2 linked regions of the Homo sapiens genome follow. The protein of the gene in region 2 purifies or fractionates together with the protein of the main gene of each other region. This does not show direct contact. Each region holds a gene or a part of one and is shown on either strand. Other genes may lie near its edges.

The links. The genes of interacting proteins can lie anywhere in the genome.
Region 1: the proteins of NTPCR (region 2) and STK38L purify together in Homo sapiens (pull-down; one large-scale study listed by IntAct). This does not show direct contact.

The regions. Positions count from the first base shown.
Region 1 is NC_000012.12:27,317,138-27,320,793, forward strand, and holds part of STK38L (serine/threonine-protein kinase 38-like), read left to right. Parts: intron 1-198; coding exon 199-316; intron 317-758; coding exon 759-882; intron 883-2,190; coding exon 2,191-2,286; intron 2,287-3,656. UniProt on the Homo sapiens protein: Involved in the regulation of structural processes in differentiating and mature neuronal cells.
Region 2 is NC_000001.11:232,956,995-232,960,650, reverse strand, and holds part of NTPCR (cancer-related nucleoside-triphosphatase), read right to left. Parts: intron 1-3,656. UniProt on the Homo sapiens protein: Has nucleotide phosphatase activity towards ATP, GTP, CTP, TTP and UTP. Hydrolyzes nucleoside diphosphates with lower efficiency.

The DNA of each region.
Region 1 (3,656 bases), on a different chromosome or scaffold from region 2:
TAGACTGAAAAATAGTAGTCTATAACATATTATCTGACTCACTACCTACCACTAAGCCTTGCACATGATAAACATGCAAAATAAATACAAGTGAAAATTTAACTCCTCTATATATTGCTTTTTCCAGTAGTAAGCCATCCTCAGATAGATATTTTTTAAATGTTAAGAATGCTGGTTTGACGAGTTGCTCCTTTGTAGGCATATTCCACAGTTGGGACACCAGATTACATTGCTCCAGAAGTATTCATGCAGACTGGTTACAACAAATTGTGTGACTGGTGGTCTTTGGGAGTGATTATGTATGAAATGCTAATAGGTATGTTTTATCATTCATTTATGTACAAAATATATACATTTCCTTGAGTGCCATTGTTTGAACATATTACAGATATCATTGACTAAAATATTTGAAGTCTTTTAAGCTTAATTCTGATGTTCCCCCAATGTTAAATACATACTGATCAATACCAGTGAGCTCCCCACGGATCCTGTTTCAGGAAGGTGGGTATTTAACCCAAACTCCCACGTATAAAAGTGGTTATCTACATAGCTTTTCAGGTAAAAGGGGAGGCAGTGCTTTCAATCCTTTATTTTATTGACTTTATTAGCAACGTGATTGTAAATTGATGAATGGTGGCATTTTTGACTGTTAAATAGAGCACTCAGGGTTGTTTGGTTTCTTGTCGCACATGTTTGGTGGGTATAAACTTCACTGCTCACAAAGCTGATGAAACATTTTTGATTTATTTGATACATAGGATATCCACCTTTCTGCTCTGAAACACCTCAAGAAACGTACAGAAAAGTGATGAACTGGAAAGAAACTCTGGTATTTCCTCCAGAGGTACCTATATCTGAGAAAGCCAAGGACTTAATTCTCAGGTTAGTGGTTAAATTCCTAGAGGAGTTCATAGTGTCTTAAAACTTCCTAAGAACCTAAAAGACTCATTTCACTTTTGTGGGGGAAGAGGGGATACCACTGATGTATACAGTCAAAGAGATCAATAAAGGTGTTTTTAAAAATGTAAACTCTTAAAAGGAAGTATGCAGAAAAAAACGTAGGAATTAAAAAGAGGGAGGAAGTCTTGTATTGCTTCTGTTACTGATATATATAAAAGCAAAAGGTCACTTCTGTTAGAATGCAATGACCTGATTCCATTAAAGAGAAAAAGGAAAATGTTAATAGCAGATTCCTGTCATGAAAAGTATATATGTAAAATCTTCTAAGCAAAAAATTCCATGTGTTCCTCAACTAATATGAAGTGTTTTGGTACTGCTGTGAATGGCTGGAAGGAATATAAATTGGGACAACTTGTGGGAATAGCCAGTTGGCAGCATATTATTTTTTTAAAATCCCTAAACTATGTATGACCTTTGACCCAGAAGTTCTACTTCTAGGGATTTCGCTTATGCAGATAATCAGATACGTATAAAGATTTAGGTACACTATGATTTTCATGGTATTTAATAGTGAAAATTGAAAACTATTTAAATGTTCAACAGTAGTGGACTGGCTCAATAGTAGACTGTCTATAATACCTCTATATGTAAATTTTAGAAAACAAATTTATTGGCTGGGCACAGCAGCTCATGCCTGGAATCCCAACACTCTGGGAGGCCGAGTTGGGCAGATCACAAGGTCAGGAAATCAAAACCATCCTGGCTAACATGGTGAAACCCCGTCTCTACTAAAAATACAAAAAATTAGCCGGGCGAGGTGGCGGGCGCCTGTAGTCCCAGCTACTTGGGAGGCTGAGGCAGGAGAATGACATGAACCCGGGAGGTGGAGCTTGCAGTGAGCTGAGATCACGCCACTGCACTCCAGCCTGTGTGACAGAGCGAGACTCCGTCTCACAAACAAACGAAAAAAAAATTTATTGAAAAATATTTAATGACTTTGGCAAATTTTCTCAGTATATCAAGTGAAAAAAAGCAGACCTAACATAGTAACTATGGTAGCAACACAGTATTTTTAATATTGTAAAAGATTAGCATATTTACAGTAGTTATCTCTAAACAGTGCGCTTACAGATGATTTTTATTTTCTTCCACATTTCCTACAATAAACATAGTTAACATCAATAAAAGAAAAACATTATATTTCTTTAAAAAAGAAATATTTGAAGTAATGCAGCTAGAATACTTTAGATGTAACTTGTGTATGATAATTTCTCTGTTTCCATGTTGTAGATTTTGTATTGATTCTGAAAACAGAATTGGAAATAGTGGAGTAGAAGAAATAAAAGGTCATCCCTTTTTTGAAGGTGTCGACTGGGAGCACATAAGGTATGTTCCTAGGCTTTGAATGGGAAAGGTCTGAGTAAAAACAAATTTCTAGAGTTGGCAATTAATTTACCTCTGATTCTGCTAGATTAAATACAAAAGTAACATATAATGTCATTAAGTGCAGTGTTTTCTGGATTATGTAAGTGAGTGGGACTATTGTGGCTACAGCTTGATGACTCATTTTAGGCTAACATCCACTTTCAGGGAAGAACATTGGGAAGCTGTTTAAATTCTTATATTCATATTCACAGTGAAGGCTGTTAGCACATGAAACATGTATTTACATTTCACACAGTGACCCCTCATTTTTGTCCTTGCTGTAATATACCACATACTGTCTCCTTAATTAATTTATAATAAGGTACAGTCCCTCTTTAAACGGTGGTTGGGCATTAAATAATACAAGTAACTTTTAAGAATTTGCTTACAGTTGTTAATTGTGAGCATTGGCTTTTTTCAGTTTATGGCCAAACTACCATTGGTAGTTCTGATCTGTTCTCCACACAGCAACAGTTTAGAAGCATAAATCTGGCCATGCCACTTTCCTGTGGCCTTTTGCACTTGGAATACAGTTAAGAAGCCTTCACTGCTTTCTTAGGACTGCAGGATATGGCGATTGCCTCATCTGCAGGAGTTGCGTCTTGGATGGCCTCTCCTACTCCTCTTCCCACCTCTAAGTTTTGCTATTTGCTATCCATCCTGACTGAAATGCCCTCTCCCTGCTGCCTCTACCCCTACCCTGCCTAGCTGGCTCCTTTGCATCTTCCAAGATAGCTTATGTGTCATTTCCTTGGTACAGCTCTTCACTGGTGAACCTGCTGTGTGCTAGGCACTCTGCCTATTATTATTACTTATTTTTTTGAGACAGGGTCTCACTCTGTCGCCCAGGCTGGAGTGCTGTGGCATGATCATGGCTCACCGCAGCCTCGACCTCCAGGCCTCAAATGATCCCCCCACCTCATCCCCGCAAGTAGCTGGAACTATAGGCATGTGCCACCACACCCAGCTAATTTTGTTGATTTTTTTTTTTTTTTTTTTTTTGTAGAGATGGGGTTTCACCATGTTGCCCAATTGCCCAGGCTGGTCTTGAACTCCTGAGCTCAAGCGATCCACCTGCCTCGGCCTCCCAAAGTGCTGGGATTACAGGCGCCTAGCCCACTCTGCCTGTTGTAATAATAGCTAATTTTTAAAAATCATTTATTGTGTCCAGCACTGTTTTAAGTACTTTACTTGCGTTTCTCATCTTATCCTCATATAAGCTCTATAAAATAGGAACTGTTATTATCCCTGTCTTACAAGTGAGGAAACTAAGGCACAGAGAAGTTAAGTAATGTGACTATAGTGCTGCAGCTAGTAATTTTTTTTTTTTT
Region 2 (3,656 bases):
ACGTAACCAGGCTAGGCACAGTGGTTCACGCCTGTAATCCCAGCACTTTGGGAGGCCAAGGTGGGTGGATCACGAGGTCAGGAGTTCGAGACCAGCCTGACCATGATGGTGAAACCCCGTCTCTACTAAAAATACAAAAATTAGCCAGGTGCGGTGGCAGGCACCTGTAATCCCAGCTACTCGGGAGGCTGAGGCACAAGAATCGCTTGAACCCTGGAGGTGGAAGTTGCAGTGAGCTGAGATGGCGCCACTGCACTCTAGCCTGGCTGACAGAGCAAGACTCTGTCTCAAAAAAAAAAAAGGAAAAGAAAAAGAAACAAGAAACATAACCAGAGCAGTTTTGCAAGGTGAACCTGGGTTGTGCCTGGCCCTCCTGAGCCTCTCCTGGAGCTGCTCTTCAGCTCCCGGCCACTTTTTTTTTTTTTTTTTTTTTTTTTGAGATGGAGTCTTGCTCTGTCACCCAGGCTGGAATGCAATGGTGCCATCTTAGCTCACTGCCACCTCTGCTTCCTGGGTTCAAGCGATTCTCCTGCTTCAGCCTCCTGAGTACCTGGGACACGGGCATGTGCCACCATACCCAGCTGATTTTTGTTTTTGTTTTTAGTAGATACTGGGTTTCACCATATTGGCCAGCCTGGTCTCAAACTCCTGGCCTGAAGTTATCCACTCACCTCAGACTCCCAAAGAGCTGGGGTTACAGACATGAGCCGCTGCAACCAGTCCCAGCCACATCCTTACTTCCCCACCTGCAAATAGGCATAGCCCTGCTTGGCCTAATTAGAGAAGTACTTTTTTCTTATTTTTTTGTAGTATTAAAACACACACACACACATACATACAACCCTCAAACTATCTTTCACTCATACATATTGAAATTTCTTACACACAATGGATATTTCTTATTATCGGAATTTGTGTTTTCATAGATCCCAGCACTATGAACTAATACTGTGTCCCTTTATAAAGGGTTTCTAACACTTCCAGTTTACTTGGTTGTTTTCATTGCCAGTATCAAAAATGGTGTGTTTATACTCCCCAGTTTTGTTGCCTAATTATTTTAATTAATATTCTTTTCATTTTTTTCTTTAGTATAAAGACAAAACACTAGTTCCTTCTCCTTTCTTCATTCCCATAAAATATGTATGATGGGAGAAAAATTTCTGCTCCAGAAAAGAAATCCATGACCCTGACTGGGTGAGAATCCTATATTAGTCCATTTTCACACTGCTATAACTACCTGAGACTGGATAATTTATAAACAAAAGAGGTGTAATTGACTCACAGTTCCGCATTGTTGGGGAGGCCTCAGGAAACTTACAATCATGGTGGAAGGCAGAAGGGAAGCAAGGATATTCTTCACGTGGCGGCGGGAGAGAGAGAGTGCAGGGGAAACTGCCACTTTTGAAACCACTGGATCTCATGAGAACTCCCTCACTATCGGGAGAACAGCATGGGGGAAACCACCCCCATGATCCAATCACCTCCCTTCAGGTCTCTCCCTCCACACATGGGGATTACAATTCAAGATGAGATTTGGGTGGGGACACAGAGCCAAATCATATCAAATCCCCTGCCAGGAACTTTTTCTACATGGAATGTACATGTCTGCATTTGGCAATCAGAATACAAAATGTTGGGAGAAGTCTGTATTTCTTTATTTTTTAATTAAAAAACAGATTTATGCTCTGATCTGGTCAGCATATGATCTCTTATATAATCTTGCATCTAGACACTAAACACCTGTGCAAACTCTCCTCCCAGGATTTGGTCTACTCTGTCTGAGCAGGGTAAGTAAAAAATTCTTTGTATTGACCCAGTCAGTTCCTAAAACCAGAATCTTCACTTGGAATTTCATTTGAAGTATTTCACTTGACTTTTGAACATTTAAGTAGAGAGGAATGTATGTGACGGGAAAACAGCTAAAAAGAAAAGTACCATGTTCTCTGCTCCCGCAAAACACAGTGGCCACGAGAGTCCCCAGCACAGGAACTGAGGGTAAGTTCCAAGAGGAAGGAATTGGGGAAGAAGGAGGTGGGAGGAGGAAACACAGCGTAGGAAGAAAAGGAGAACTTGGTGGGTTCCAAGAAGCACAACCCCCTGCTGAAACAGACCATAAGATACCACCAGCCCTCTGAGATTAGAGGATATCCTCAGAGGCTATAGCTAAAATCTTCAGCAGCCTTTGGGCAACCACCACTACATACTTCAGCTGAGCTCTGAATGTCAAGGAGCAGAGAGGCAAAGATCTATGAAGACAGCGTGCTCACCAAAAAAAATGGCAAGTGCCAAGGGCCTCAGCCTGGCATATGTGGGAAGTCTGATTGAACCAGTGTGGCTGAAGAATGGCAAGATGAGGTCAGAGGTTAGTAAGGCCAGATATCACAGGGCTACAGGGCCTTCTAGGCCACTGGAAGGACTTTGGACTTTATTCTTGGTGCCATAGAAAACTCTGGATAGTTTATAGTTGGTTTTTGAGACAGGTCTGTATCATTTAATTTTCACAAATCAAAGTAGTAAGTCTGTAATAGATTAAATGACACTCACATTCCTTAACATGGTCCACAGAGCCCTGCATCTCATGGCCCCCCACCTCACCAAACTTACCTTCTTCACCTGCTCCTGCTCCAGGGCTCTGAGGTCTGAATGTATCTGTTCCTGCCATTTAGAATATTCTCCCCAGACCTCCCCACCCTGACACATACAAATACCCCAATACTAACTCTCTCTCCCCAATGCCCTCTCACCTGTTCCTTTCTGTTTAAATGTCATCTTCCCAGAACTCTTTCCTGGTCCCTTGGTCTAAAGTCAGTTCTTCCTGTCCCTCCCTTTCATAGCACCCTGTTCTTTTCTTTCACAGCATTAATGACCATGACAAGTATAAATTTACTTAGTGTCTACCTTTCCCACTAGACTAACAGTTTTGAAAGAGTAGAAACATGTCTGTTTTGTTCATGACTGTATATGCAGTACTTGATAAATATCTGATAAATAGATACATAAAACTACATAATCAATAAAACAAAAGCTGGTTCTTTGAAAAGATCATCTAAATTGACAAACTTTTAGACTGACCAAGGAAAAAAGAGAAGATTTAAATAACTAAAATAAAGAAAGAAGTGACAATATCACCAATCTTACAAAATAAAAAGCATTATGGGTGAATCTATGAACAACTATATGCCAATAACTTAGATACTTCAGATGAAATGGACAAATTACTAAAAGGTACAAATTACCACAACTGATTCAACAAAAAAATACAAAATCAACAGACCTATAAGGAGAGATTTAATTGGTAATTTAAAAGCTTCTCACCAAGAAAAACCTAGCCCACATGGCTTCTCTAGTGAATTCTATCAATTATTCAAAGAAAAATTAATACGAATCATTCACAAACTCTTCCAAAAATTAGAAAAGAAGGAAACACTTCCTAACTCTATTAGACCAGTATTAACCTGATACCAAAACTAAACAACAATATCCCAAGAAAAGAAAGCTACAGACCATATCTTTTGTGAATAAAGATGCAGAAATCCTCAACAAAATACGCCTGAGTAAACTCTATACAAATAAGACACAGTTAACATCATACATAATGGTGAAAGACTAAATACTTTCTTTCTAAGATTAGGAATAAGATAAGGATGTCTACTCTC